Homo sapiens: one gene and its partners. The protein of the gene in region 1 purifies or fractionates together with the protein of each later gene. This does not show direct contact. Each region holds a gene or a part of one and is shown in the gene's direction. Other genes may lie near its edges.

Region 1 (6,682 bases):
GGCCTCAGGCTCCTTCTCTAGAAAACAGGGTACCTATTTCACAGAGCTGTGAAGATTAAATAAACCAATCTTAGACAGGCATGGTGGCACATGCCTGTAATCCCAGCTATTCGGGAGGCTGAGGCAGGAGAATCACTTGAACCTGGGAGGTGGAGGTTGCAGTGAGCTGAGATCATGGCCACTGTGCTCCACCCTGGGCAACTGAGTGAGACTCTATCTAAAAAAAATAAAATAAAATAAAAATTAATAAACCAATGTACGTAGAATACATGAGCTAGCACCCAGCACACTGTAGGTATACGTAAGTGTTAGCTGTTGTTTTTACCTATAATATGAGGGCCTTTGTGACACTCCATGATCTCCCAGCCCCCCTAAGAAGGAAAATTTATTAACTCTGAGATTGCTGTTTTTGAGGTTTCTATGCACCTGCTCCATCAAACTCTTTCCGGACCACATACAGATAGATAAAAGTTTACACAAACGGCTTAAAAGACAAGTGGAAAAGTCTCCTCCCCGTGTGCTGATTTGTGTGGTTCTGGAAGAAAACTCTCCCAGGAAGGTCAACTCCACTTACCCACAAAACTCTCATGTAATCTAGGGTTTTCTCTCTCCTCAGTTTAATTGGTAACACCATCCCAGTATGGAAATTGGCTCTGTTCAGAGAGTGGGAGAATGTCAAGAGAAATTTCTGGGCTTGAAAGTGGATGCAGGTCCCTGTGTCTCTCTGCTCAGCTCCAGCCTTAGGCCCATTCACTCTGAAGTCAGGAGCCTTTCACCTATTCAGTGATGGAACCCACTGGAGATGGTAATCACCATCATCATCAGCATCTATTAAATTAACACAGTGCATCAAAACACGAATGCTTTGCAAATACCCTACTTCCATGTGTGGCCCACCTTTCTGATGAGGAAACTGAGGCTCAGCAAGGTTGTCATGGGAGGCAGAAGACTCAGCCTTTGATCCAGGCTGCCTTGTTTAAATTGTTGGTGACATTTTCCTGGGTGATATTTTCATCCTCCATAGTAAACTTCTTGATAACTGTTGAATAGAATAGGTATCCTAAATTGATGTCCTCCTAGAAAGTCAACAATATCCAATTTCGCAGGTATGGGGAAGAGAGAAAAGAAAACAATATCCAATCAACAACTATTGAAAAACCTTATTAATGGGCAAAGGTGATCGGTTCAAATTGGTTGCCCAGAGCTGGATCCACTAGATCCTGGAGAAAGGATCCCTCTGGTGAGGCCAGAAGGGAAGCTTAATTTCAAGCCGAGCCTCCCTCTTGACTAGAAATACCAGCCCCAGGTGCTCCCATCTCTCTGGCCAGTCTGCATTCCGTGATTAGGGGCCCTAATGGCCATAATGCCTCCAAGGTGGTGTTGAAACCAATAAGTCTTCAGAGAAGTTATGGTATGTTTAATAACGGCTTAATGACTCCTTGTGAGATGCAAGGCTTCTGGTTCCTGTTTGGTCTTGATTTACAGCCCAACTCTGGCTGAGGAGCCAAGAAACCCCTTCTAAGCCCCCAGCGGAAGAGGGAGGTGTTCACACCAGGCCTCTTGGATTCCTTTAAAAATTGAGAATTCAAATGAAATACAAATGATGTTTGACTCCCCACCTCTCTTGCTAGTCTCCGGGGGCATTGATAATAAAAACAGTTTAACGCAGCCCCACGGGCTCCTCAATCCATGGGAAGTGAGCAGGGTCCTCGGGTCCTTGGGTATTTCTCCCCAGATCTTAGGTAGGGTGGTGGTTATTTCTCTTTTCTGAAATTCTAAGCTACTGCTCTAATCCTGTCTCCTTTTGGTTGGGGAGACTCAGCTCTTAGAAGATGCAGTTCTACCCTCATCCCTTCTGAATCGTCAGGCCTGGGGGAGCACAGCCCTGAGGTCCGAGCTGCAGACAGTCTCTCCAGTGGGTCCCCAGACACTTGGGTCATCTGCCCACTGAAACGCATTCACTCCAAGCTGCTGCCAGAGGAAACACCAGCCCTTCTGCTCATCCTCCACCTGTTCCAAAGGCTGCCCCTGCAGGACACTGTTCAGTCCTGAGCTGCCCATGGGAGTCTCCCTGTCTGCTCTGGCCCTGTCTCTACTTCTGAAACACACCTCAAATACATAGAAAGACCCAGGGTTGGCTTGGCCCGACCTCCACAGTCAGATGAGGACACTAATGATTGGCGCAAGGAACCATAGCTAATTAATGATAGTGTCCAGGTCCAAGCTCCCCAGCACCCCATTCCCAGCTTAGATCTGCTTCCACACAACACTCCCAATAGCTCCTTTCACTGTGAGAAACAAGAGATCTCTAAGGGAGGTGTTTTTTGCTGAGGCAACATTTTGTCCAGCTCCTAGCGGAGACCTAAGTAAAACTGCAGCCTAAGGCCTGCCTGTCTGCCCGCCCAGGCCCTCATCCCAGGCTGATGTCCAGAGTCCAGGCCCAAAAGTGTTTGGGGGGGATGCCCACACGGCCTCACCCCTCTAGGGGCAAGTGCCTCTAGGCTGGATATCAGGACCACGGGTGCTGCTCTGAGCAAGAGACTCACCTGGATGGGTAGACAAAGGGATCCTGCCCTAGAGAGGAAGCTGCTTCATCCTCTCCTGAGCTGCCTGGGACTGGGCTCTGGGTGAATGGGGGGAGGGGGTTCCCGGGCTCCGAGGGGTTAACCCGCACGGGGCCACACGTGACGTGGATGGTTCCAGCATTAAGTCAGAGGCGCGGCCCCCTCCCCTGCCCCCCGCCCCCCGCCCCCCGCGGCGCGCGCCGCTCCCGGGGGCTCCGCGCCCCCGCGCCCAGGTCCCTCCCCCTTGGCGGGCGCTCACAGGCGGCGCGGGCAGCGCGAGCCCCGGAGCCCCGGAGGCCTGTGCGCCCTGAGCCGGCATGGACCCCGAGCACTGCGCGCCTTTCCGCGTGGGGCCTGCACCCGGCCCCTATGTGGCCTCGGGGGACGAGCCTCCGGGCCCGCAGGGAACCCCCGCCGCTGCGCCTCACCTGCACCCCGCGCCGCCCCGCGGCCCGCGGCTGACCCGCTTTCCGGCCTGCGGGCCCCTGGAGCCCTACCTCCCAGAGCCGGCCAAGCCGCCCGCCAAGTACCTGCAGGACCTCGGGCCCGGCCCGGCCCTCAACGGCGGCCACTTCTACGAGGGCCCCGCGGAAGGTAACGCGCGGCGCGGGGCGTAGCGCGCAGCCCGACCCTCTCTTCTTCTTCCTTACCCGGGCCCACCCGGGCCTTCCTGCTTATCTCTCCCGCTCGCCTATTTCTCAACTTTTTGCCCCTCTCGCCTTTCGCCACGGCTTCCACGGAAGCCGGGTTGGCGCTGGCCCGGGCCAGGCAAAGGCCAGTGTGGGGCGGGAGGGTGAACCACCGTTCCTCGGCGGCGGGAATGGAAGGCGGGAGGTCGAGGGAAGGTGCAGTGGCGACGGCCCGGAGTCCAGTCGGGGCCCGAAAGCAGTTGGACCTGGGAAGGAGAGAGCATGCTCTGCCGAAGTTGGACTGGAACTGCCACCTACCCTGAAGCCCAGACCCGGCCGAGGGCTGTGGAGCCACACTGAGACCTGACGAAGAAGCGCGGCTTTTGTGTCTGGCGCCCTTTGAGGGCCCTGAGGCTGGGCCTCAACCTAGAGTGGTCAAATCGGGGTCGGCTGGGGACTGCGGCCTGGTCTTGGCCCGTCTCTCCTCCCCGGGCCTAGCCTTCACAGGAAGGGTGCTGCCTGTGCGGCAGACTGGCACAGTCTGGCCGCGACTGGTCGTGCAATGCCAGGGCTGTCCTCAAGACGGAATAACTGTATTCTTATTTCTCATACTAAGCTGGCCTCCCTGCCGTTATGCACTATGATAGCCGCCCTTCTGGCAGTCTTGGCTTCCCCGCGCTGGATCATCACCGCTGGGCAGTCAGGAGCAGCCCTGGGCAGCCTAACCCCCTGGCGCCGCGGGCTCACGGGCCGGTGCCCTGTGCTAAGGCCGGCTGGACCGCGCCGGCATCCGAGAATGCGCCTGAAGGCAGGGGCCTGGCAGGCTGATCGGCAGCTCTGCGGCCGTCCGCCGCACCCTATGACCTGTAAGGCGTCTCGGCTTCCGCACTGCACCCACCTTATCTGCGCTGCCATATCCCGCAGCCTAGGCCCAGAACTGGATCCTCCAAGATCCGCCTCAACCCCCTGCCGCCGCCCGGCTGGCGCCTCGCGGGCCTCCACGGAGTGGCCGGGCATCTCCGGCTTTCGCCCAGCCGGGGCGGTGGGAATGTGTAGGGGAGGGCGGGGAGGTGTGTGTGGGTCAACGGAGGAAATGAACGAGTCCGCGGAGCTTCGTGTCTGTGCCCTTTGAAAGAGGCTTTCCTGATAAAAACCACAGTTGGGACTTAATGAGAAGCAGTTGGCCTGGCTCCTCTGATCCCAGCCAGACGGCAGAGGCCGCGCAGTGCGGTGAGCACCGCCAGAGACAGGTACCCGGCCTGGCTCAGCGCTCCGCGTCGGGCAGGAGCCACCCCCCCAGGCCCGCGTCCCTGCTAGGCGCGCCGCATCCGGCACCGACAGCTCGGGCCCCCGGACCACACCGGTGCCGCGCGAACTGCAGAGAGCGCTGGTGCGGAACGAGCGGCCGGGAGAAACCCAGCACCCCGGGATCCGACGGCAAGGGTGGCCTTGACAACGAAATACCGAGAAAGAAAACCAAAGAAAGCGAGCGACAACCAAGAAAAGGGGAAGGGAAATTGAACAAAACAACGGAGAGCGCGGCGAGAACGAGAGGGTAAATGGCAGTCGGCGAGCTGGGATGAACTAAAATGAATAAATGAGGAACGAACGAATAAAAAAAGCAGGAGCAAGATCGAACGAAACGGATAACTAGAGAAGGGGGAAAGGACAAAGAGGGAGGGAGCAGACTAAACAAAAGAAAACGGAGCATGTTTAAAGCGTAGAATATATCAAAATGAGAACAAGGGGGTAAGAAAATTAACGATTTCAGTTGAACGGAGGACAGGCCAAACGAAAGGGAGGCAGGCGGGTGCGAGCAGAGCCTGGTAGAGATCCTGGCGGCCGCTAGCCTCTGGCGCTCTTGCCGGTGTTCAACGGGCTGCCAGCGTCCCTGCGGCAGAGCGGACCTCGGCGCAGCGCGGCGCGCGGTGGAGCCTGGCTGCTTGAGGACAGTCAGCCCCCAGGGCCGCACAGCCTACTTGGTGGGAAGTGGCGGGCGAAGAGGGAACCCGCCTTATTTCCCGGTTTTTAAAATAACCGGCTCGGAGCGTTTCCAGTCCACACGAGTGAGCGCGCAGCTGCGCCCCATCTGCGGCGCGATCTTTCACGAGGCTGGGCAGTTGCGCGCCCCAGAGCCTGGCGCACCTCGCTCTTCTCCCGCCTGCAGTCCGCCGCCCGCGCAGCCCCAGGCCGCCCTTTGCTGAGAGCGCCCAGCCTTGCTCTGAACCCAGGCTGCGTGCTGGCGCTGCCAGCCACTCTCGCGCCGTCCGCGCTTGGCTAGTCTGTCCCGAGTTTGGCTCTGACGTCGAAACACGCCCTCGGCAAGAGACTCCTACTAGAGTTTTGCCCGCTGCCGCTGAGGCCCTGAGCCGGATGACCCGGCCGATCGCCAAAGTCGAGGAGAGTCCCAAGTTCTTAGACCCGGGCTGAGGCTTCTGGGCCAACGCTGAGAACCCCCAAGAAGGGCACCGAGGCCTCACCGGGGTCCTGCCCACGGCGTTTATGTCCACTCTGGCTTTGAGTCTTCGGCGGGAGCTGCAGGAGCCTGGGCCTCAGCGAGTTCTGCAGGTCGCTTAGTGACCCCACAGTGGCCGGAGGAAACAGTGCGGCGCGGGACAAGGCTGCAGCGAAATGTGAAAGCCAAGGCTGGTCCCGCGGTCTCAATGGATGCCTTCTGTGGGGACAGTGGAGCACTCGGGCCTGCTGCGGCGCTGCTTCCTGGCTGCACAGTGGCTTAGAAGCAGCCGCTGGTAGGGGCTCTGGCACTCCTCCGGGTGAGGGGTGCTCAGGGTACGGCAGGCCTGAGAGCTGGGTCAGGGACAGAGAGCTCCTTTACTACGTTAAAAGGCTCCTGGCTTTCACGCCCAACAGCTGCTGCTGTGGCCCTGCGGTTATGCAGGCAGAAGACACCCCAGCGTTGTCTCAGGCTGTCTCCAACATGAGTACCCCGCCTTAACCACCTAGTGTCCGGATCAGGTGCAGTGACTCCTCTGCACAATCCATACACACCTCAGATGTGCCCCGTGCTCAGCAGAGCAGCCCTCACTCCTTTACAAGCTTAGGTTCAAGCTGCTGGCTGCTATTCCTGGCCTGTCTTTCCTGGCTTCTGCCTTCCATTTGTCCCAGTTCTATCCCTTTCCTCTTCTGGGCCTTGCTCCTCAGGAGGCTGCTCTGTGTTCTCTGAGGAGTGCCCCTCTCCCAAAGTGGAGGGATGCCACCCTCCCTCTGGTGTTCTCCAGGTAGATCAAGGAGGTTTCAGGGCAATGACAATGAGGAGAGCAGTTCCGTGGTCCCTTGAGAGGGCTGTAGACTGGGCAGGCATGGGAGTTGGGCATAGGTCAGCAGGCTTAGCCTCTTCTTTGGGGAAGCTGCTCTGAGAAGTCCTACTGCACTTTCATCCCTTGTCCCTGGCAGCTTGGTGGCTCAAGGTCGGGAACGCAAGTCTCAGGGCCCCAGATCTGGTCCCTTCTTCTGGGCAGGTCCTATTGA
Region 2 (6,059 bases), on another chromosome or scaffold:
GAGTTCAAGACCAGCCTGGCCAACATGGTGAAACCTCGTCTCTACTAAGAAATATAAAAATTAGCTGGGCGTGGTGGTGCATACCTGAAGTCCCGCTACTTGGGAGGCTGAGGCACAAGAATCGCTTGAACCTAGGAGGCGGAGGTTGCAGTGAGCCAAGTTTGCACCACTGCACTCCAGCCTGGGTGATAGAGCGAGACTCTGTCTCAAAAGAAAAAAAAAAGCAGGATACTAATTTACACTCATTATATGGCTGTCATCAAAACGACATAAAAACTGTTGGTTAACGTGGAAAAATTGGAACCTTGATACATTCTTAGGAATGTGAAATAGTGACTAGTGCAGTCATGGTGACAAACAGTCTGATGATTCCTCGAAAAGTTACCATATGACCCAGCAGTTCATCTCCTAGGTATATGTATACCCAAGAGAAATGTCCATACAAAACATATTCAAATGTTCATGGCAACATTTTTTACAATAGCCAGAAAGTGAAAACCCAAGTGTCCTGCAGCTGATGAATGGATAGATAAAATGTGGTATATCTACACAATGAAATATTCAGCAGTAAAAGGGAATGAAGTGTTGATACGTGTCACAACACAGATGAGCCTTGAAAACAAGTGAAAGAAGCCAGACACAAAGGCCACATTTTATTTGATTCCATGTATATGAATTGTCCAGAATAGACAAATCCATAGAGACAGGTTAGTGGTTTGTCTAGGGCTGAGATGGAGATAGGGGAGTTGGGGAATGATTGTACTCAAGGACATAGAGATTAAAATGTTCCAAAATTGTGATGGTTGCATAATTCTGCTAAAAATCATTACATTGTATGCTTTTGAATTTTATGTGAATTCTGTCTCAATAAAACTTTTTTAAAAAATAAAGAACTCCCGTCTCTCCATCAGCCAGAAAGGACATTGGTATTGAGGTTGACAAAACCTACAAGGACAAAAACTACCATGGCTTCCAGTGCTTTCATGAAACCTCAGATATGTGGCCTTCTGGCCAGGCATCTGTGATTTCATGTTGTTGAAGTGTTCATTTTGCCCTGGGGTTACATCTCTCTATTAAAATTTCTGTGGCTGAACCAAAAAAGAAGGCATATGTAGATTTCTGCATAAATTATGACTCCTTGAAAGATTCTAAGATGAAGGTGGCTTATCTTTGAGAGTGCAAGATGATTTTGGAATATAAAAAATTAGTTTGGCCCAGGCATGGTGGCTTATGCCTGTAATTCCAGCACTTTGGGAGACCGAAGCAGGTGGATCACCTGAAGTTAGGAGTTCGAGACCAGCCTGACCCACATAGTGAAACCCTGTCTCTACTGAAAATAAAAAAATTAGCCAGGTGTGGTGGTGGGCACCTGTAATCCTAGCTACTGGGGAGGCTGAGGCAGGAGAATTGCTTGAACCCAGGAGGCGGAGGTTGCAGTGAGCCGAGATTGCACCATTGCATTCCAGCCTGGGCAACAAGAGTCAAACTCCATCTCAAAAATAAGTAATAAAATTTTAAAAAATAAAATATTTCTTTGAATTACACAGGACGTTTGTCACTGATCTGTGTTCCTGAACTATGAAACATAGATCTGGGGGCTAAGGAAAAATTTCTCTTGATATTTATCAACAATTAGCAAGTACTGTAAAAACAAAAAATAGAATAGCCGTAAGACTGCCAAACAGGCATGTACCTTAAACTTGAAATTTCTATCAGGAGAAAATTATGCCTGTCCTAGATAAATATTGAAGGCTGTATTCCTGTTTTGCTAGTGTGAAAAATTAAGTGATGATTACCCACTCTTTTCAGAAAGGAGAAGATGAGTATGCCAACGTTGATGCCATTGTTGTATCAGTGGGTGTTGATGAAGAAATTGTTTATGCCAAATCAACTGCCTTACAGGTGAGAGATTTACAGCAATTTTTAGCTCTTAGAGTTGTTGGATTATCTACTGCACTGTTCAGTATGGTAGCCACATTAAAACTTAAATTCCTGGCTGGCTGCGGTGGCTCATGCCTGTAATCCCAGCACTTTGGGAGGCCGAGGCAGGTGGATTGCTTGAGCCCAGGAGTTCAAGACCAGCCTGGACAACATGGCAAAACCCTGTCTTTACAAGAAATACAAAAAAATTAAGCAGATGTGGGGGTGTGCACCTGTAGTCCCAGCTACTCAGGAGGCTGAGATGGGAGGATGGCATGACCCCAGGAGGTAGAGGTTGCAGTAAGCCAAGATTGCACCATTGCACTCCAGCCTGGGCAACACAGTGAGACCCTGTCTCTTACTTTAAAAAATTTCAATTTCTCAGTCCCATCAGCTGTGTTTCTGGTACTCAGCAGTGGCTACCCCATATTGGACAGAGCAGATAAATGGTATTTTCACCATCACATAAAGTTCAATTGGATTTAGCAGTGATTTAAGACATAAGGAAAAAGAAGTATTAATATCAGTATGGATTTAGCTGCTATAACACAAAAACCTAAGTAACAGTGAGTTAAACAAAATATTCTTTTCCTTATGTATAGTCTTCAGGGACCCAGGCTTTTTCCAGTTCTCTGTTCTGCCACCCAAAGAACATAGCCCTCTTGCACGTGGTACAGAATGGCTTCTAGAACTCCAGGTGTTTCATCTACATTCCAAGCAAAAAGAGACAGAGAAGAAAACAGGAGGCCACCTTTTCTTTTTAAGAAGACTTGCTTGAAGCTCCACACACTACCATTTTTTACCTATTGGCCAAAATTTGATCCTAATGACCATACTTACCTGAAAGGAAGGTAAAATATCAGTTCTTTGAGAAGGAGAAATGAATAATTGGTAGGGAACTGGTAATTGAGGAGGTAATAACGCAGGGTTCTGTATCACTCTGTCCCTTGTTTTATGCATTTCTGTATCACTAAACATTGATATACTTCCTATAAACACAAATCGTTTAACTGATTTGATGGTTTTAATTATAGAAAGTTCAAGCATATAAACGTAGAGAAAATAATACATTGAACCCCATTGTCCTGTTCTAATAAATTGTCGACTCTTGGCCGATCTTGCTTAATTTGTATCCACTCCAGACTCCCCAGCCTGATTACCTTGGAGTTAATTTCAGACATGTTATTTTTGTCTATAAGTATTTCTGTATATCTATATGAGTCCATTAATTTTTGTATCTGTAAATACCGTTGTCACTGTTGTCTTTTTCCATAGACATGGCTCTTTGGTTATGAACTAACTGATACTATCATGGTCTTTTGTGATGACAAAATCATCTTTATGGCCAGCAAGAAAAAAGTGGAGTTCTTGAAACAGATTGCCAACACTAAGGGCAATGAGAATGCTAATGGAGCCCCTGCCATCACACTGCTAATACGAGAAAAGGTCAGGATTAATAAAGAATGTGTCATAAATGTGGAAGAATCTTCAAAAGGGATGAACAGAAATGCCTTATAGGAGTTTGAAAGAATGCGCAGGGGAAATTATAGGTGGCTGTGGTTGTAATTACAAAGTTCTGTCACGTCTTCATTGTTAGGAGGAAAAGAATTCAATAATCCTATCAGTTCTGCTGTAAAACAAATGAGCTATGAAATTCTGGTGAACACTGATTTTATGTCTCCATTCTTGAGGACACTGTTAGTTTGTTTTCATCTGTATGCCTTGATTAGAGCAAATAACCTTAAATATCCTTAAGGAAACTTAGATATACATCATTTCCAGTTTTTATCAAATGTGAATTTTTTTTGTCATACTGCCCACCTAACATGGGATGTTTTCTCAGAATATTGTTCACTTATGTGTTTGAGTTTCTTAACTGTTTCTGAAGAAAAAGGATAGTTGTATCAGACGTGGTGGCACACACCCGTAGTCCCAGCTGCTCAGGAGGCTGAGATGGGAGGATTGCTTGAGCCCAGGTGTTTGAGACCAGCCTGGGCAACGTGAGACCCCTTCTCTTAAAAAAAGGAATAGTCTGGTCAACTTACGGCAGCACTTTCACCTGAGTATATAAAAATATCTAAAGAAATGTTTTGCTCACTTTTGATATATTACAATCTTCCTTAAAGATGGGAAGGCATCTTACAGGTAGGCCAGGCATGGTGGCTCATGGCTGTAATCCCAATACTTTGAGAGGCCGAGGCGAGCACTTGAGCGCAGGAGTTCCAGATGAGCCTGGGCAACATGACAAAACCCCATCTCTACAAAAAATACAAAAATTATTCAGGAAGGCTGGGTGCAGTGGATCACTTGAGGTCTGGAGTTCAAGACCATCCTGGGCAAGATAACAAAACCCCATCTCTACTAAAAATATAAAAAATTAGCCGGGCATGTTGTCACACACCTGTAATCCCAGCTGCTCGGGAGGCTGAGGCATGAGAATCACTTGAACCCGGGAGGCTGAGGTTGCAGTGAGTGTAGATTGCGCCGCTGCACTCCAGCCTGGCAACAGAGCAAGTCTGTCTCAAAAAAAAAAAAAAATTTATCCAGGCATGGTGGTATGAACCTGTAGTCCCAGCTACTTGGGAGGCCGAGGCAGGAGGATTGCTTGAACTTGGGAGTTCGAGGTTGCAGTAAGCTGTGATCACACCACTGTGCTCTACCCTGGGGGTAGTAGAACAAGACCCTGTCTCTTTAAAAGTAAAAAGTAGGTGGGGATGGGAGGAGAATTAATTTTTTCCGTAGTTTAGAATATTATTCTACCTGTTACTGGTAAAACGTGTCTAATGAACTGGTAAAACATATGTGTCTTTTCTTCCCTATGACACTGACAGAATGAAAGTAATAAGAGTAGCTTTGACAAAATGATTGAAGCCATTAAAGAAAGCAAGAATGGCAAGAAGATTGGAGTGTTCAGCAAAGACAAATTCCCTGGAGAGTTCATGAAGAGCTGGAATGACTGCCTCAACAAAGAAGGCTTTGACAAAGTAAGAATACTACTGGAAATAGCAAATCAAGAGTTGAGAAGACAGAAATGTGATGGGCTTCCATAACAGATAGTGCAGGACGTTTGTTTTGGGAAAACTGTATGTTTGTTTACATTTTATCCCCTTTGGCTGAGCAGTGTGCCAGTTTTATTTTTTTTCCCTGCCTTTCTTCTATCTGCCTTTACAAAAAACGTCTAGAGGGCAGTTTACATTTTAAGTGGTACATTAGCTTAACACCTCTTGTAGTACACACAATGACCTGGCAAAGAGCTATTTCAAATGTTTATTCAGTTCAAGAAGAGAATGTTTGAATATTCTGCAAACCAGTGATAGTTTGCTAAATAACAGAAATATCACTGGTAATATTCAAATTGGAGAGATGCATTTATTTTGTAATTCTGTACTTGCATGTTAGAAACTCTTGTCACTTTGACTGCAGATAGATATCAGTGCAGTTGTGGCATATACCATCGCTGTAAAGGAGGATGGGGAGCTCAACCTAATGAAGAAAGCAGCCAGCATCACTTCTGAAGTCTTCAACAAATTCTTCAAGGAAAGAGTCATGGAAATAGTTGATGCAGATGAGGTAAATGGAGATGAGAGGGTCTTTTTACTGTTTTAATGAAGCAGTAATAAGTCTACCATGCAAATCTGTTGGTGTGTTCTTCAGCTTCCTTTGAAATTAAGACTGACACTTAAGTTGGTGGTAATTACATCATCTCCCTTTCAAAATAATGGTAAGCCTGCGTTATGTTTTCTTGAGGTAACCCATTATTTTACTTGAGAATCATAGGAATAGCTGTAAGTCCTACATATTGTTCTCCAAATGTGTTTTGCCTGCATACCAATATATTACCTGGCGCATAAATCATTTCCTAAGACTTATACAAGGATACATTTTGTCTTCAAATCATAGTGTCCACACACCCCGCTTTGCTACCCTCTAGTAAGTGTTACTTTATTTCTGGATGCTCTTACAGAAAGTTCGACACAGCAAACTGGCTGAGTCTGTGGAAAAGGCCATTGAAGAGAAAAAATACCTTGCTGGGGCAGACCCTTCTACTGTGGAAATGTGTTACCCTCCTATCATTCAGAGTGGTGGCAACTATAATCTCAAGTTCAGTGTGGTGAGGTAAGTATATGAAGACTTCATAA
Region 3 (6,059 bases), on another chromosome or scaffold:
TGTCTCAAAAAAAAAAAAAAAAAAAAAAGACTGTCCTTTAGCTTCTCTGTTTGGACTTCTGCCCCATTTCTGGACCTCACCTGCTGCTCTCCCAGAATGCCCTGGCTCCCTCTGGCTTGGGGTGGTGGTTGAGTGGCAGGGGTGGTGAGTCAGCCCAGCCCACAGTCATCTTCCTCACCATCACTTGTCATATAGTATGCCAAGCACTTTACAGACATTCTCTCCTGTGATTGCAACAGCAACACATTTTCTGGACAAGCAGCTTGGCTTAGTAGGCAGAGATTGGATTTAGAGTCTTCTCCACTGGGGGGACGGAGATGTTCATTGCAATGCCAGCCTCTCACTGCTGCCTCCCACCCTCAGATCTCTTTGCAGAGTCCCTGCAGTGCAAGGTGGACTGTGAGGCCAATTTGACCCCCAATGTGGGTGGCTACTTCGTGGACAAGTTCGTGGCCACCATGTACCACTACCTGCAGTTTGCCTACTATAAGTGTGAGCCCCCTGGGTGGGCTGGCTTGGGCAGGGGACGAGGTGATAAGGGAGAGGACTGTATGGGAGCCTCCCAGAGTTGTGGGGAGCTTTCCTTCAGTATTGAGGACCCTGGGTGATAGGAGGAAAGTCTAGGGGTGGTGGGAATATGGGGAAGGCACCCTGGGAGTCTGGGGCAGGTGAGAGGCTTCTGAGTGAGAACAGACAGCAGCCTCAGGGAGAAGAAGAGGGTCTTTTGGGCAAATGACTAGACAACCAACAACTGCAGAGCACTTGACAGTTTATTTTTATTTTTGAAACGGAGTTTCACTCTTGCCCAGGCTAGAGTGCAGGGGCACGATCTCGGCTCACTGCAACCGCTGCCTCCCGGATTCAAGTGATTCTCTTAGCCTCCTGAGTAGCTGGGATTATAGGTGCCTGCCACCACACCCAGCTAGTTTTTGTATTTTTAGTAGAGACGGGGTTTCACCATGTTGGCCAGGCTGGTCTTGAACTCCTGACCTCAGGTGATCCACTGCCTCAGCCTCCCAAAGTGCTGGGATTATAGGCATGAGCCACCATGACCGGCCAACACTTGAGAGTTTATAAGTCACTTTATCTTATGTGGTCCTTTCACCAACACCATGCAGCTGGCATTACTGGACCGATTTTTCAGATGGGGAAACTGAGGCTTATAGGGCAAGGGGCTGTTGGTCTTATGACTAATAAAAAGTGGCACCAGGACTTGTGGCTCTCCTCACTGGAGAGATCCTGGCATCCACTGGGGCTGGAATGGACAGCCTCCAGTGTTCCTGCAGCTCGGAGATGCCAAGATTCAGACAGAGCCAGGAGTCAGAGCAGAGGGGCTGAGAACCCAGGGGCCAGGAGACCCTTCCTGGGTACACATAGCAGAGAGGCTAAGGGCCTCTAATTCACTAGAGCCATCATTCTCCAGCTGTGTGAGCTTGAGCAATTTATCTAACCTCTCTGTGACTCAGATTTCTTGACTGTAAAATGGGGATGACAGTAATAGGTAGGCATGGCTGGGCACAGTGGTTCACACTTGTAATCCCAGCACTTTGGGAGGCCCAGGCAGGCAGATGGCTTGAGCCCAGGAGTTCGAGACCAACCTGGGCAACATGACAAGACCCCGTGTCTACAAAAAATACAAAAAGTTAGCCAGGCATGGTGGCGCGTGCCTGTAGTCCCAGCTACTGGGGAGACTGAGGTGGGAGGATTGCTTGAGCCCAGGAGGCAGAGGCTGTAGTGAGCCGAGATCACACCACTGCACTCCAACCTGGGTGACAGAACAAGACCCTGTCTCAAAACAAACAAAAACATACAAAAAATTAGATGGGTGTGGTGGTGCCTGCTTGTAATCCCAGCTACTCAGGAGGCTGAGGTGAGAGGATCACCTAAGCCTGGGAGATCAAGCTTGAGGTGACCATAATTGCACCACTGCACTCTAGCCAGGGTGATAGAGTGAGACCCTGTTTCAAAAACAATAAAAAGACAATAACAGTGAGGCTTAGATGAGTTAGTCAGGGCCTGGCATAGGGTAAGTGCCCACTACATGCTAGCTGGCATTATGCTTGGGTGGGATAAGGAGCCCATTAGGTATTCTGGGAGGTGGCTGGGTAGCAGGGGTGCTGGACTGAACTGGAAGATGGAGTTGACTCTGAAGGGGAAGTGCCAGAGCAATTCCTCACCCCTGTCCTGCTGCAGTGAATGATGTGCGCCAGGCTGCCCGCAGCGCCGCCAGCTACATGCTCTTCGACCCCAAGGACAGCGTCATGCAGCAGAACCTGGTGTATTACCGGTTCCACCGGGCTCGCTGGGGCCTGGAAGAGGAGGACTTCCAGCCCCGGGAGGTGGGCACTGCTTTCTGGGGCACTTGCTGGATATGCACTTTGTAAAAAATGAACTCCTGGCGGCCGGGCGCGGTGGCTCATGCCTGTAATCCCAGCACTTTGGGAGGCTGAGGCGGGTGGATCACGAGGTCAGGAGATCAGGACCATCCTGGCTAACACGGTGAAACCCCGTCTCTACTGAAAAGAAAAAAAAATTAGCCAGGCATGGTGGTGGACGCCTGTAGTACCAACTACTCGGGAAGCTGAGGCAGGAGAATGGCGTGAACCTGGGAGGCAGAGCTTGCAGTGAGCGGAGATCGCGCCACTGCACTCCAGTCTGGGTGACAGAGCGAGACTCCGTCTCAAAAGAAAAATAAATAAATAAATAATAAAAAATAAACTCCTGGCTTCCATGGAAGGCAGGATGGGAAATGGAAAGAAAGAATATGAGTTGAGGTTAGAGTCCTGGCTTCAGAGCCCAGCCCCACTGCTGTGTGGTCCTGGGAAGACCATGGCCCTTTCCTAATCTATTGCCTCACCTGCAAAATGGCAGTGATACTGCCACCTCACCAGCAGTGTCCAGACGAGGGAGGTATGAAGGTACACATCCACTCCTACCTGCTCCCCTCCCTACCTTCATTACCCTCACTGCTGACCTTTGTCCCTCTTTCCCAGGAACACCCTAGGTAACCAATGGAGGAAATCTGTTGGAGTTGAGGGCCAGGCTGGCAAATATGGGGCACATGGTGCCACTCCTGCCTTCCTTGTCAGTGGCAGACATTGCTAATCGATTGAGGGACTCTTTGTCACCAAACTCTCAGAATCCTTAACCCAGTGTTCCAAGCAGCCACGATGATCTGATGAGCTTGTGAGCTGATACCTATTCTCTGATCCTTGAGCTAGAAGAGGGCCAGTGGGCCCAGATCCTAGGAGCCCTGGCTTCTTGCCATCTGGCAACAGGGTATGGCTCACCCCCCACCCCGTCCTTCCCTCCTTCCAGGAGGCCATGCTCTACCACAACCAGACCGCCGAGCTGCGGGAGCTGCTGGAGTTCACCCACATGTACCTGCAGTCAGATGATGAGGTGAGTGCCTCCTGCTTTCCAGGATTGGGCTGTGATGGGGACACCTTGGACCTTTTCCTGGGGCCACCAGTGTGCCAGAATTCAGCCCCAGCCCCTGGTGGTCAGCTGTCGTGAAGAAGAGAGGTTTGCCTGTTCCTTGTCTAGACTGTCCGTTCCTTCCCCAGCCTTAGTATTCTCATGTCCTCCTTTTGTACATGTCTCAATCCTGTTCCTCCCAGGCCCAGCTCACATGGTGCCTCCTCCAGGAAGCCCTTGCTGCATGCCCTGGCTCTTTGTTCTGGGCTAGCAGTGCCCACTCTGACCTGTGTGCCTCCCTGGCCACCTGTGGCCTGGACCTGGGTGATTGCAGCCCTCGTCCATCTCAGCCCTGGGCCCCTTCTCCAGCCAGTATCCAGGAGAACCGCACTGCAGGACACAGGGCCACATTATTCCCTGTTCTCCCACATCCTGCACAGAGCCTGGGCTCAGAAACTGAGTTTGAATGAACCAGTGAATGAATGAATGCAGGACCTCAGGACAGAAGGACCGTATTGTATTACATTGATTTATTTTATTTATTTATTTATTTTTTTTTTTTGAGATGGAGTCTCGCTCTGCCGCCCAGGCTGGAGTGCAGTGGTGTCATCTCAGCTCACTGAAACCTCTGCCTCCCGGGTTCACACGATGCTCCTGCCTCAGCCTCCGGAGTAGCTGGGATTACAGGCGTGCACCACCACGCCTGGCTAATTTTTGTATTTTTAGTAGAGACAGTGTTTCACCGTGTTGGTCAGGCTGGTCTCGACCTCGTGACCTCATGATCTATCTGCCTCGGTCTCCCAAAGTGCTGGGATTACAGGCGTGAGCAGCCGCACCCGGCCCTATTAACATTGATTTCAAGTGAGGGTTTGACAGCCTTAATTTCTCTGAGGTGTTGCTGCTCAGTGCTCATTTATGTATCCTCTCCTTTGTTCATGCCCCCACGCCCCCACCCATCCAACCCCAGAGGAGGAGGGCAGAATCTACACCGTCAGCACCCAGGATGAGGAACTAGCCAGACCTGGCTCCATTACTTACCAGTTGGGTGGCCTCCAAACAAGTGTCAGGCAACCTCTCAAGCTTCTGTTTCTTCATCCATTGAATGGGGAGAATCATGCCCATCTCACATTGTTGTGGTGAGAATAACACAAGATCTGGCCGGGTATGGTAGCTCATGCCTGTAATCCCAGCAATTTGGGAGGCCGAGGCAGAGGGATCACCTGAGATCAGGAGTTCAAGACGAGCCTGGCCAACATAGTGAAACCCTGTCTCTATTAAAAATACAAAAATTACTCAGGTGTGGTGGTGGGCACCTGTAATCCCAGCTACTGGGGAGGCTGAGGCAGGAGAATGGCTTGAACCAGAGGCAGAGGTTGCAGTGAGCCGAGATCGCGCCACTGTACTCCAGCCTGGGTGACAGATTGAGACTCTGTCTCGAAAAAAGAGAAAGAATTAAGTGAGATCAAGTATGTTTTTTTGTTTGTTTGTTTTTGAGACAGAGTCTCGCTCTGTCGCCCATGCTGGAGTGCAGTGGCGTGATCTCAGCTCACTGCAAGCTCCGCCTCCCAGGTTCTCACGCCATTCTCCTACCTCAGCCTCCCAAGTAGCTGGGACCACAGGCGCCTGCCACCACGCCCGGCTAATTTTTTTTGTATATTTAGTAGAGATGGGGTTTCACTATGTTACCCCGTATGGTCTCGATCTCCTGACCTTGTGATCCACCCACCTCGGCCTCCCAGAGTGCTGGGATTACAGGTGTGAGCCACCACACCCGGCCTCAAGTATGCATTTTTCTTTTTTTTTTCTTGGAGACAGAATCTCACTCTGTCACCCAGGCTGGAGTGCAGTGGTGCGATCTCTGCTCACTGCAACCTCCACCTCTTGGGTTGAAGAGATCCTCCTGTCTCAGCCTCCGAGTAGCTGGGATTACAGTCATGCGCCACCATGTCCAGCCAATTTTATTTTGTATTTGTAGTAGAGACAGGGTTTCACCACGTTGGCCAGGCTGGTCTCAAACTCCTGACCTCAAGTGGTCCGCTTGCCTCGGCCTCCCAAAGTGCTAGGTTTACAGGCGTGAGCCACCGCTCCTGGCTGAGATCAAGTATGTAAAGCACTTGATAAAGAGCCAGTACCTGGTAGGTGCACAGTGAATGACAGCCGAGTCTCACTCTGTCATCCAGGCTGGAGTGCAGTGGTGCAGTCTCAGCTCATTGCAACTTCCGCCTCCCAGGTTCAAGCGATTCTCCTGCCTCAGCCTCCTGAGTAGCTGGGATTACAGGCGTGTGCCACCATACCCAGCTAATTTTTGTATTTTTAGTAGAGACATGGGGTTTCACCATGTTGACCAGGCTGGTCTTGAACTCCTGACCTCAAATGATCCACCGACCTCAGCCTCCCAAAGTGCTGGGATTACAGGTGTGAGCCACCACGCCTGGCGTATGGCAGCCATTTTGACGGCTGTCTCTTATTTCCTGTGGTTTGCCAGACACCAGACTAGGGGCTGGAGTAAGTTAGTGAAAGTCATGGTCCTGGCGGGGCACGGTGGCTCACACCTGTAATCCCAGCACTTTGGGAGGCCAAGGCGGGCGGATCACGAGGTCAGAAGATTGAGACCATCCTGGCTAACACGGTGAAACCCGGTC
Region 4 (6,059 bases), on another chromosome or scaffold:
GGTTGTGTGGGTTAAATGAGACACACGAATATATAACACTCAGCACACTGCCCGGCACATGGTAGGACTCAGGGCAAGGCATGTCTAGGGGTCTCTGTGGGCTGTCTCCCTCACATTCATGCCTCACTTCCTCCTTCCCAGCAGAACCTTGATTCTGTTCAGTACAGTAGCTATTATTATTGTTATTACTATTACTGATTTTTAAAAATGCTTGTTGATAGAACTTAGTGAGCCTGTGCTGGGTGACGTGAGAGAAAGTACAGCCTTCTCTCGATCTCTTCTGCCTGTGAAGCCAGTGGAGATAGAGATTGAAACGCCAGAGCAGGCGAAGACAAGAGAAAGAAGGTAAGCTTAGGCCCTTGCTTCTAGGCTCCTGTCACATGCAGTAGGCAACAGCTGCTGCTTAGGAGGACTTTGGAGAAACTTGTAGGGGACCAGGACTGAGTATCAAAGTGGTCGAGAACCTTGGGTCAGGAACCTGATTTACCTTTAGAGACTTGAATGAGACACCTTCGTGTCCTGGCTGGGGCTGGTGAGGGATGAGGAGAGGGAACTCCTGTGTGCCAAGGATTGAGCAGGTCATCCGTTATCTTACCTAATCCTTAGAACAGTGTTGTGAATGAGGAGCTAAGTAACGTTCAGACGCTAAGTAACGTTTCAAGAGTCACTCAGCCAGTAATGGAAGAGCTGAGACCTAATCCTTCTCATTGACTTGGCATTCACATTTTCCTCACCATGTCATGCTGCAGGACTTGAGGCAGTGCCCGCCGTGGTAGGGAGCCCCTATCCTTCCCAGCATCCCGGAGTACCTCTGCAGCCTCTGATGGCTTGGGAATTCCAATGTGCGATGGGCACATTACTAGGCACAGAAGAGGGAGATAATACAAATCATTCAAGAAGTGTCAAGTTGTCTTGAAGATTAATGGGATACAGACTGAAAAAGAGATTTTACACTAGAACAGTGTCACATAAATGATGGTGTGTTAATTTAACATTAATAAAGGTAATGGTTGCTAAGGAGAGAGTCAGTAGTCGGAAGAGTTGGACAGCCAGAGAAGACTTCCTGGAAGAAGTGAGCTTTGAGGCATGTAGGTGAGGTGTGATCTGCTGCTGGTTGAGAGGAGGGTTGTCTGGGTACAGAATGTCCCAGGCCGAGGTTTGCTGGTGAGAAGGAGCCAAAGAGCCTGCAGGAAATAGCTGGCTTGCAGACGGACTTGAGTAGCACAGCCTTGTGTAGGGAAACAGGGAGAGTGATTCACTGTCATCCGAGGAGAAGGAATTGCCTGGGGGAGTGGAGTCTGGTTTCAGTTCCCCCCTTCATTCCCAGATTTTTCACTATTTGTTGCAGTGAAAAGATAAAACTGGAGTTTGAGACATATCTTCGGAGGGCGATGAAACGTTTCAATAAAGGGGTCCATGAGGACACACACAAGGTAAGGGCAAGGAATGATGGGGAAGGACTTTTCCTTGTCGGTGCAAAGAGCTTGTGCTCACCGAGGCTTTATTTCTGGCTTTGCTGCTCTGTGGCCATGGCAAGTTTCTTACTCTCTCTGAGCCTTTGCATCCTCATCTGGGAGGTGGGGGTAGTAATAGTGTCTGTCTTGGAGGGTGGTTGTGTATTATAGGTAAGGTAACTTGCAGCACAATGCCTGGCATGCAGCAGAGGCTAAATAAAGAGCACTTGCCTTCCATCTCTCCTTTCAGCCATTTAATGTCATTAATTCTAATCCCAGCTGCAGGCACTGGCTTTTGACTTTAGCTGACAGTTATTGAACACTTGCACACACCTAGCAAGGTGCTTGGCATGGTGGGGATAGAGACTTGGATAAAGCTTATTTCCTACAATTGAGGAGTATCTGATCTCTAGATGGAACAAGGACTTCCAAACAGAGAAACTCAAGGCTATGCCTGGAACAGTGAAAGAGATCAGCGTGGCTCTGTGGAGCTGGGGAAGGCTTTATGTAGGGGAAAGGATTAGAGCCAGGTCTAGGAGAAAAAGTTGAAGACTCTAGCCAAGTTGTGGAGGGGACGGCGAGGTGCCCAGCTCACCTGCGTGTGTGGAGTATGTAGGTGTTGGGGGGTGGGGGTGAAGGGAGGGTGGGCTTTGGTTTCCCTTTGATGGATGGTGGGCTGCCTGAGAGGATAGTGATGGGATGGGTGAGTTGCTTTGTGTGCAGCTACTGCAGAAATCTAGAGGTGCAAGGATGGTGACGAGGTTAGAGAGGGGTCGCCTCCCTCACCCAGGCCTGGGGCACGAAACGAGACAGCTGTGTGCCTTTCACCTCTTGTTGGGTGCTGGAGGTGAAAGAAAGGGAAGATGACTCTCAGGTTTGAGGCCTGAGTGAGGAGAGAGAGGCAGCACTATTGATTAAAATAGGGAGGCTGTTAGTCGGGGGGGAGGAAGCCAATGTTGAAGGGAAAATGACACAAAGCAGTATGTGAAAAGAGGTGAAGAGGTCATATAATCATTTCAGTAGGTGGATGAAGGGTGGGTTTTGGGGTCAGAGGAAGGGCAAAGATGTGGAGCCTGTGACAGAGAAGGTTGGGCTCAAACACCCAGAGAGGTGGCGAGAGCAGCCCAGTGAGCCCAGTGGGGTGCATCCCGCCGGCTTCCACAGGCTTCCAGCAGTCTCTCCAGCTCCACTCCACTTGCCTTTTCTTCTGATCTCGTGGAGCAAACCCCAGACATGGCAGCATTTCATCCAGAAATCTTTCAGTATGTATCTCTGAAAGACAAGACCAAAACAAAAACAGTTTGTATTTTGAAAACAAAGCAATTTGTATTTTGAAGCTTTGAGGTTTGATGATTCCTTTGAAGGAATGAGTATACAGAGAGAAAAAGAGAGGGTCAAAGACAAGCTTGGGAAGTGGCCAATGCTAGTGTTTTTACTTTCTTATATGTAGAAATGGCAACACATATTTCTTGTCCACAGCATGTCTTGACTTTGGCAGCAAAAATTCCTCCTGGTGTCCGGCCTTCCTTCCATGCTGCCCCTTCCTCCTTTCCTCTTCACAGGTTCACCTTCTCTGCCTGCTAGCAAATGGCTTCTATCGAAATAACATCTGCAGCCAGCCAGATCTGCATGCTATTGGCCTGTCCATCATCCCAGCCCGCTTTACCAGAGTGCTGCCTCGAGATGTGGACACCTACTACCTCTCAAACCTGGTGAAGTGGTAAGGCCCTCCGCTTGTCCTGCAGAGCTGGGGAGTGTAGGATTTGTGTTTCTCTCAGAGGCTGGGTTCAGGTCACTTCCACAGACCTTCCCTGAGGCGGTAACTATGTATCAGGTGGTGGGCATGGCATTGAAGATAGAGAAATGCCAGGTATGATCTTGCCCTGGTAGAGCTGCCAGACTGGTGGGGAGACAAATACATACCAGGTAATTACAGGATGGCATGAGGAGTGCCCTGGAAGGGGTGTTCTGGGGACTGCAGGCTCACATAGCAGGGGCGCTTTTCTCAGCTGGGAGGTCTGGGAAGGCTCCCCAAGGAGGTAAAGTCTGAGCTGGGTCTGCAGTGATGATAGGAGTTAGCTAGACGGGCTGGGGAAAGTAGGACAGAGGCAGGCGGGTCTCACGATTCACTCCCTCTTTTTATTTTCTTGGCTGGAAATGAAAATTCCCCTTTGCCCTGACCTCTGACACAAGGAATGCCTGCTTTCTCCCCAGGTTCATTGGAACATTTACAGTTAATGCAGAACTTTCAGCCAGTGAACAAGATAACCTGCAGACTACATTGGAAAGGAGATTTGCTATTTACTCTGCTCGAGATGATGAGGAATTGGTCCATGTAAGTGATCCTCCCGGATCACTGTTTTTTATCAGTACTGTTAACTAATGATAATGGCAGCCATGTGCCAGATGCCATTCCAGGTGTGTTACCGACACTACCTTATTCAGTCCTCATAATGACGTTGATAGCTGCTGAAGCCCAGAATAGCTACATGATGCCTCTAAGGTCTTTTCCTTGGTGAGCCTGAGAATCGAGATTGGGATCAGAGTCTGAGTGGAGGGCCTGTATGCTTTCCTCCCTATCGCCTCTAGTTGTGGTGTACCAAAAAGCCCGTAGTTTTTGGTCAGATGTGCTAGAAATATTTTCATTAATTTTTCCAATTTTGTCTTCAGAAGTCCCAAGGAAATGTTTTTTCAAATTGGATGCTGAAGTCCTTGAGAATGTGTTTTTGTATCTCACATTTGGGTGTTGACACTGGCAGGCAGCAGTGCAGTGAGGAGGGTTCTGTCCATAAAAAGGAATCGTGATGGCAGAGTGCTCCAGGGACAGGCAGGCTTTATCAAATGCCTACAGGCACCTGTAGGTAAGGCTCTGTCTGAATAAAACAAAAACAGAGATGGAAATGTGGTTTTATCCCTAGAAGATTCCTATTAATCCATACAGTTCAATCTGGGAGTCCCAGATTCTCTGGAGAAAAAGATGGTTGACATCTTTAGTTCTCTTCTTCCGTGTTGGCTTTAACAAGTCTAAGATATTTGGCAAGGCTGATAATTATGTTATAATGTGCTGCCAATTTTTTTGTTTGTTTGTTTTTGTTTTTTGAGACAGAGTCTCTCTCTGCCGCCTAGGCTGGAGTGCAGTGGTGCAATCTCAGCTCACTGCAACCTCCACCTCCTGGGTTCAAGTGATTCTCATGCCTCAGCCTCGCGAGTAGCTGGGATTACAGGTGCCCACCACCATGCCTGGCTGATTTTTGTATTTTTAGTAGAGATGGGGTTTCACCCTTCACCCTGTTGGCCAGGCTGGTAACTCATTAATATTTTAGTATTGTCCTCCCAGACTTTGTTCCTGTGTATGTGTGTACGTATGTATTTGTTTTGTTTATTTGTTTAAGCAAAATAGGATCACACAGCTTTTAAAGAGGGGGTACAATTCAGTGACCATTTAGTACATTTACAATGTTGTGCAACTACCACCTCTATTTCCAAAATGTTTTTGTCACCCCCAAGGGAAACCCTGTATATACGCATTAAACTCCTCATTGTTACCCCCCTGTCCCTGCTCGTGGCAACCACCAATCTGTCTTGTGTCTCTGTGGATTTACCTATTTAGGATATTTAGTATAAAAGAAATTATACACTATGTGGCCTTTTCTGCCTGTCTTTTGCTTAGTATAATGTTTTCAAGATTCATCTGCATTTTAGCATGTATCAGTATTTCATTAATATTTATAGCTGAATAATATTCCATTACATGTTTATACATTTTCTCTATCCATTTATCCATTGGCAGACATTTAGTTAGTTTCCACCTTGTGGCTGTTGTGAAGAGTGTTGTTAATAATGTCTATACATATATTTATTTACATACCCTGTTTTCTGTTCTTTTGGGTATATACCTAGGATTGAAATTGCTAGGTCATATGTATATTCTATATGTAATTTTTGGAGAAACCACCAAACTGTTTTCTGCAGTTACTGTACCATTTTACATTGCCACCAGCAATGAACGAGGATTCCAAATCTTTACCAACACTTGGTTATTTTCTGATGTTTTGATTATAGTCATTATGATGGGTGTCAAGTGATACCTCATTGTGGTTTTGATAGCATTTCTCCAATGACATGATGATGAGTGTCTTTTCATGGGCTTCTTGGTCATTTGTGTATCTTTTTTGAGGACATGTCTGTTCAAGTATTTGCCTATTTTTTAATTATGTTGCCTTTTTGTTGATGATTTGTAAGAGCTCCTTGTATATTCTGGATATTAGTTACCTATCAGATACATGCTTTCCACATGGTTTCTCCCATTTTGTAGGTTGCCTTTTTACTTTCTTGATGAAGTCCTTTGATACCCAAAAGTTTTGAATTTTGACAAAGTCCAAGTTACCTATTTTTCTTTTGTTCTTTTTGCTTTTGGTGTCGTATCTAAGATTCCATTGTCAAATCCAAGGTCATAAAGATCGACCCCTGTGTTTTCTTGTAAGAGATTTATAGTTACTGCTCTTACATACGTTGTGAGTTAATATTTGCATATATCAGGTAGGTGTTCAATATCATTCTTATGCATGTGGATATCCATTTGTCCCAGCATTATTTGTTGAAGAG
Region 5 (6,059 bases), on another chromosome or scaffold:
ATAAGGGAAAGGAGATATGCTATACTTAGGGTTTATTAAGGATATTCTTACATATTTGTTGTCTTTTAAGCATTTATAAATATACATATACACCCTATATTCTAAAAATCTAAATTCAACATTTATTTTTGTGATAGAATCAGATGCTAAACTTCTTGAATTTGTATTAAGGAGTTTTGAAATATTTTAAGTTTCTCCAGAATCACTTTGAGAGGCTTAGAGAAGTCAGTGTCTGTATTATTATCTTCCATATTGTATTGTTTAATTCAGACTGCATCATTGGAGATCAAGGCAGAGTTCATTAAGAAACAAAAGCAAGAAAGAACAGGTATATGGGTAGAGCAACACTTTTCTTTTAGAAGTCCTTCCAAAGCCTTGAAATGGAATGTCAGTAGGCTAGCATGTCAGAGTTTGGTCCTCAGTTGACTGTAGTGAAAATGTCAAGGCCCACATCTGCTGCTTCCGGCTCCATCTGGATGCTTTCTGCTCTTTGCAAGTTGATGGCTTATCTTGGGTCACCACACCAATGCTTGCGATGTTAGGATGACGCAGGGTGCATGTCTCGGCACTTCCTCAGGAGCACAGGATCCGCAGACATGTTTCTGCCAACTAAGGGGACGCTGCTGGCATACACAGCAGTGTTGCCATTTCCAACTATGTATGCTGTTATCTAGGCTGAAATTTGGGTGAAATTCTTACCCCAGTGTTGCCACATTTTCTTGGTTTTTTAGCAGAAATACAGTGGTAGAGAATATATTATTTCAAGGCCAGGCACAGTGGCTCACGCCTGTAATCCCAGCACTTTGGGAGGCTGAGGCAGGTAGATCACTTCAAGGTCAGGAGTTCGAGACCAGCCTGGCCAACATGGTGAAACCCCATCTCTAATAAAAATACAAAAAAATAAATAAATACGGGTTCTAGATCCCTGAGGAATTGCTACACTGTCCTCCAAAATGGTTGAACCAATCTACATTCCCACCAACAGTGCAAAAGCATTCCTATTTCTCCACAACCTCACCAGCATCTATCGTTGCTTGACTTTTTAATAATTGCCATTCTGACTGGCGTGAGATGGTTTCTCATTATGGTTTTGATTTGCATTTCTCTAATGATCAGTAATGATCTTTTTTTCATTTTTTTTTTGGCTGCATAAATATCTTCTTTTGATTCTTTTGAGAAGTGTCCGTTCATATCCTTTGCCCACTTTTTAATGGCAGAAATACCATTTGACCCAGAAAACCCATTACTGGGTATATACCCAAAGGAATATAAATCATTCTGCTATAAAGACACATGCACACATATGTTTATTGCAGCACTATTTACAATAACAAAGACATGGAACCAACCCAAATGCCCATCAGTGATAGACTGGATAAAGAAAACGTGGTACATATATACCATGGAGTACTATGCAGCCATAAAAAAGAATGAGATAATGTCCTTTGCAGGACATGGATGAAGCTGGAAGCCATCATTCTCAGCAGACTAACACAGGAGTAGAAAACTAAACACCGAATGTTCTCACTCATAAGTGGGAGTTGAACAATAAGAACACATGGACACAGGGAGGGGAACATCACACACCGGGGCCTGTCAGGGGGTGGGGAGTGAAGGTAGGGAGAGTATTAGGACAGATACCTAATGCATGCGGGGCTTAAAACCAGACAGGTTGATAGGTATAGCAAACCTCCATGGCACATGTATACCTGTGTAACAAACCTGCATGTTCTCCACATGTATCCCTGATTTAAAGTAAAATTTTAAAAAAAGGAAAAAAAAATTAGCTGGGTGTGGTAGCACATGCCTGTAATCCCAGCTACTTGGGAGGGTGAGGTGGGAGAGTCGCCTGAATCCAGGAGGTGGAGGCTGCAGTGAGCTGAGATTGCACCACTGCACTCCAGCCTGGGTGACAGAGCGAGACTCCATCTTGGGGGGGAAAAAGAAAGTATTATTTCAAATAATTTTACAAATGAAATCATTACTACATAATTGTCCATCAAAACCTCTTCATTTAGGGCCGGGCTCGGTGGCTCACGCCTGTAATCCCAGCACTTTGGGAGGCCGACGCAGGCAGATCTCGAGGTCAGGAGATCAAGACCATCCTGGCTAACACGTTGAAACCCCGTCTCTACTAAAAATACAAATAAATTAGCCGGGCGTGGTGGCAGACGCCTGTAGTCCCAGCCACCCAGGAGGCTGAGGCAGGAGAATGGTGTGAACCCGGGAGGTGGAGCTTGTAGTGAGCCGAGATCGCGCCACTGCATTCCAGTCTGGGCAACAGAGTGAGACTCCGTCTCAAAAAAAAAAAAAACCTCTTGATTTAGAAACCGAGACAGCTTGTTCCCTTAGGATTTCACTTTTCAGGTGAATATGTGTACTTTGGGGTTGGATCAATTTTAGGGATATGAAAGGTAACAAGATTGTTGTCAATTAATTTGCATTTTCACCGTCTGTTTTTGTTATTGATTCCAATAGGGAGATTCGGCTGATTCTTTTTTCATTGTAGAATCTGGAGAAGTGAAAATTACTATGAAAAGAAAGGTAAGCATTCTAAGTCCTCAGAACCCACATACTGTTAGCAAGGAACACAACAGATCTACTTTTTGATGTTTAGACTGAGGTTAATTTTATTTTTCATAAGCTGAGGAAAAGCTCATCTTTTTAATTGCCTTGTCAGGGTAAATCAGAAGTGGAAGAGAATGGTGCAGTAGAAATCGCTCGATGCTCGCGGGGACAGTACTTTGGAGAGCTTGCCCTGGTAACTAACAAACCTCGAGCAGCTTCTGCCCACGCCATTGGGACTGTCAAATGTTTAGGTAGGGATTGCAACAGTGGGCGTGCTTCTGCTGGTTGAACTTATGTCTGCATTTTATGTATTCATGTTGAGTGAATCATTTTATTGGGTTCACAGGTTTTGTGGTCCCCACAAAAGGTAACAAGATTAGGACTCATTGCCTTATAAAATCAATTTGTGGAAGCCATTTTTTCTTCGAAATTTTTACATCCAGATACATTTTGCTCTTCTTGTGTATATATGAAATAACATCCCATATTAGTCATTAAAATAAGAGTTCCAAGTACCACGTTTTATATGGAATCTCTCAAATAAGCAACATGTGCTATGTTCCTCAAAAGAGAAGGCTAAAGTACTATTTTTATAAAGTCCGTTATTAAGATCTGCGGGGAATGCTGAGATGTTGTGAGAATCCTTACTCATTACAGTATTGGGACACAAAGGTTCAGGTTTGTCAAAGCACAGTCAAATGTTCTTTGCTGTTCAGTTGTTATTACTATTTTACCAGAGTAGCTTGGCAGAAATGTCATCTTCAGGTGCAGGCATCTGTATATATCTGAGATTATATATCTGAGAAATCACTTACTTTGATAAGAAAATACAGTTTAGAAGGTGGCAATATGGAGGGTATTTTAAGAAAATTGATCTCACAGTTATTACCCTCTCTGTGCTTTTCATCCATAATTCAATAGCATAAACTTAATGTTTTTAAGATTTGCAAGGATCCTTAGAATTAACTTCTTAGAGAAGTCATTCTTTAAAAGGGTTTAAATAAGTATAATATTAATCAAGTGTTAAATTTGGATGGAAGAGAAGACGATTAGAAACTGGCAGGTAATTTCCCTAAGTAGGGCTATTAGAAAGAGTAAAGGTGAGTGAGTGAAAGTCTATTAGAAATAGTAAAGGTGAGTGAGTGAAAGTCTATTACAGTAAAGGTGAGTGAGTGAAAGTCTATTAGAAAGAGTAAAGGTGAGTGAGTGAAAGTCTGTTAATTTTTTTTCAATAATAGATTATTATACTCACATCAAAGAAAACCTGAGAAATACAGAAAATGTAGAAAAAACATAACACCGCCACTCAGTGATTTCTGCTATTATAATTCCTTCTTGTCCTTTTTATTTGTGTGGGCTTCCAGTTGTTAAACAGTTTTCCAAACAACTTTTAAAGTTCATTATCGCTTAGGAATGTTCTTATTTTATTACACCAAATTTTAAAATTCTTTTAGGTAAATATATACACGATAAATTAATCATTCCTTAGTGGTAAATACTTCGAAGGTTTTGGCTCCAACTTTTTTGTGGGGAGCAATTTTTTGTGCATAGAAGACTTTTCTGTATTATAGGAGTTTTCCTTAGAAATGGTTTTCAGGAGTGGGTTTTTAAAAAATTAACTTTTGACACATATTGCCAGATTACTTGTATTTGTACACTACTAGCAGTGCCATAATGCCCATTCACCCTATTCTTGTAAACATTGCCTTTTTTATCTTTTTATCTTTAGTGTAAAAGGCAAAGAAGATCTATTTTAATTTGTACTTTTATGTATAGAGTATGATCATATTTTCTATTTATATATTATAAATCCAGTTTTAAAATCCAGGAGACAGGCAAGCAAAGTGATTTCTAGCATGTACTTATAGAAGTAAACAAAAGCATTATGTCAGCTGCCATTTTTGGATTGCATAGACATAGTATGGCAGCAAAACTTACAAAAGGTTAACACTTGGCCTTCACAACATGGCATTTTAAACCCTGAGAAGGGAACACAGGATAGAAAACACTCTTGTGCCACCCTTGAGGAGTTCACATTGCTAAGGTGGAGACAGCACATTTATTTTTTAAAATTCTAAGGTCTTTCCATGATAGTCCCTCATTCTTTTCTCAGCTTGGACCAGGAACCTCCCACCAACTTAGCATTGCTCATCATATTGCCGAGGGACTGCAGAGTGTGGTCCAAGAGCGTGGCCCTGGCTGCTTCCTTTTTCAAGTGGAACATTTTTATCATTATGCTTTTTCTTGTATTTTATAGTATTTACCTAAAATATCATTGCACTATTGATATATATGGAGTCGGTATTGTAAATGACTTAGAAATTCTGCAGATTTGCAAAGAATGTTATTTAAAAAAAAATCTTCTCTTTTCTCAGCAATGGATGTGCAAGCATTTGAAAGGCTTCTGGGACCTTGCATGGAAATTATGAAAAGGAACATCGCTACCTATGAAGAACAGTTAGTTGCCCTGTTTGGAACGAACATGGATATTGTTGAACCCACTGCATGAAGCAAAAGTATGGAGCAAGACCTGTAGTGACAAAATTACACAGTAGTGGTTAGTCCACTGAGAATGTGTTTGTGTAGATGCCAAGCATTTTCTGTGATTTCAGGTTTTTTCCTTTTTTTACATTTACAACGTATCAATAAACAGTAGTGATTTAATAGTCAATAGGCTTTAACATCACTTTCTAAAGAGTAGTTCATAAAAAAATCAACATACTGATAAAATGACTTTGTACTCCACAAAATTATGACTGAAAGGTTTATTAAAATGATTGTAATATATAGAAAGTATCTGTGTTTAAGAAGATAATTAAAGGATGTTATCATAGGCTATATGTGTTTTACTTATTCAGACTGATAATCATATTAGTGACTATCCCCATGTAAGAGGGCACTTGGCAATTAAACATGCTACACAGCATGGCATCACTTTTTTTTATAACTCATTAAACACAGTAAAATTTTAATCATTTTTGTTTTAAAGTTTTCTAGCTTGATAAGTTATGTGCTGGCCTTGGCCTATTGGTGAAATGGTATAAAATATCATATGCAGTTTTAAAACTTTTTATATTTTTGCAATAAAGTACATTTTGACTTTGTTGGCATAATGTCAGTAACATACATATTCCAGTGGTTTTATGGACAGGCAATTTAGTCATTATGATAATAAGGAAAACAGTGTTTTAGATGAGAGATCATTAATGCATTTTTCCCTCATCAAGCATATATCTGCTTTTTTTTATTTTGCAATTCTCTGTATTCTATGTCTTTAAAAATTTGATCTTGACATTTAATGTCACAAAGTTTTGTTTTTTTAAAAAGTGATTTAAACTTAAGATCCGACATTTTTTGTATTCTTTAAGATTTTACACCTAAAAAATCTCTCCTATCCCAAAAATAATGTGGGATCCTTATCAGCATGCCCACAGTTTATTTCTTTGTTCTTCACTAGGCCTGCATAATACAGTCCTATGTAGACATCTGTT

What was found.
Region 2: the proteins of ALX3 (region 1) and SUPT16H purify together in Homo sapiens (affinity purification with mass spectrometry; 2 studies listed by BioGRID and IntAct, with this or other methods). This does not show direct contact.
Region 3: the proteins of ALX3 (region 1) and P3H4 purify together in Homo sapiens (affinity purification with mass spectrometry; 2 studies listed by BioGRID and IntAct, with this or other methods). This does not show direct contact.
Region 4: the proteins of ALX3 (region 1) and XPC purify together in Homo sapiens (affinity purification with mass spectrometry; one large-scale study listed by BioGRID and IntAct). This does not show direct contact.
Region 5: the proteins of ALX3 (region 1) and PRKAR2B purify together in Homo sapiens (affinity purification with mass spectrometry; 2 studies listed by BioGRID and IntAct, with this or other methods). This does not show direct contact.

The regions. Positions count from the first base shown.
Region 1 is NC_000001.11:110,066,812-110,073,493, reverse strand, and holds the start of ALX3 (homeobox protein aristaless-like 3), read left to right. Parts: upstream 1-2,821; 5' UTR 2,822-2,881; coding exon 2,882-3,158; intron 3,159-6,682. UniProt on the Homo sapiens protein: Transcriptional regulator with a possible role in patterning of mesoderm during development.
Region 2 is NC_000014.9:21,369,181-21,375,239, reverse strand, and holds part of SUPT16H (FACT complex subunit SPT16), read left to right. Parts: intron 1-1,809; coding exon 1,810-1,902; intron 1,903-2,543; exon of another isoform or gene 2,544-2,771; intron 2,772-3,195; coding exon 3,196-3,366; intron 3,367-4,751; coding exon 4,752-4,904; intron 4,905-5,343; coding exon 5,344-5,490; intron 5,491-5,884; coding exon 5,885-6,036; intron 6,037-6,059. UniProt on the Homo sapiens protein: Component of the FACT complex, a general chromatin factor that acts to reorganize nucleosomes. The FACT complex is involved in multiple processes that require DNA as a template such as mRNA elongation, DNA replication and DNA repair.
Region 3 is NC_000017.11:41,804,139-41,810,197, reverse strand, and holds part of P3H4 (endoplasmic reticulum protein SC65 precursor), read left to right. Parts: intron 1-363; coding exon 364-492; intron 493-2,193; coding exon 2,194-2,339; intron 2,340-3,318; coding exon 3,319-3,402; intron 3,403-6,059. UniProt on the Homo sapiens protein: Part of a complex composed of PLOD1, P3H3 and P3H4 that catalyzes hydroxylation of lysine residues in collagen alpha chains and is required for normal assembly and cross-linking of collagen fibrils.
Region 4 is NC_000003.12:14,162,543-14,168,601, reverse strand, and holds part of XPC (DNA repair protein complementing XP-C cells), read left to right. Parts: intron 1-221; coding exon 222-345; intron 346-1,348; coding exon 1,349-1,433; intron 1,434-3,016; coding exon 3,017-3,174; intron 3,175-3,668; coding exon 3,669-3,789; intron 3,790-6,059. UniProt on the Homo sapiens protein: Involved in global genome nucleotide excision repair (GG-NER) by acting as damage sensing and DNA-binding factor component of the XPC complex. Has only a low DNA repair activity by itself which is stimulated by RAD23B and RAD23A.
Region 5 is NC_000007.14:107,154,506-107,160,564, forward strand, and holds part of PRKAR2B (cAMP-dependent protein kinase type II-beta regulatory subunit), read left to right. Parts: intron 1-2,478; coding exon 2,479-2,544; intron 2,545-2,680; coding exon 2,681-2,819; intron 2,820-4,943; coding exon 4,944-5,077; 3' UTR 5,078-6,059. UniProt on the Homo sapiens protein: Regulatory subunit of the cAMP-dependent protein kinases involved in cAMP signaling in cells. Type II regulatory chains mediate membrane association by binding to anchoring proteins, including the MAP2 kinase.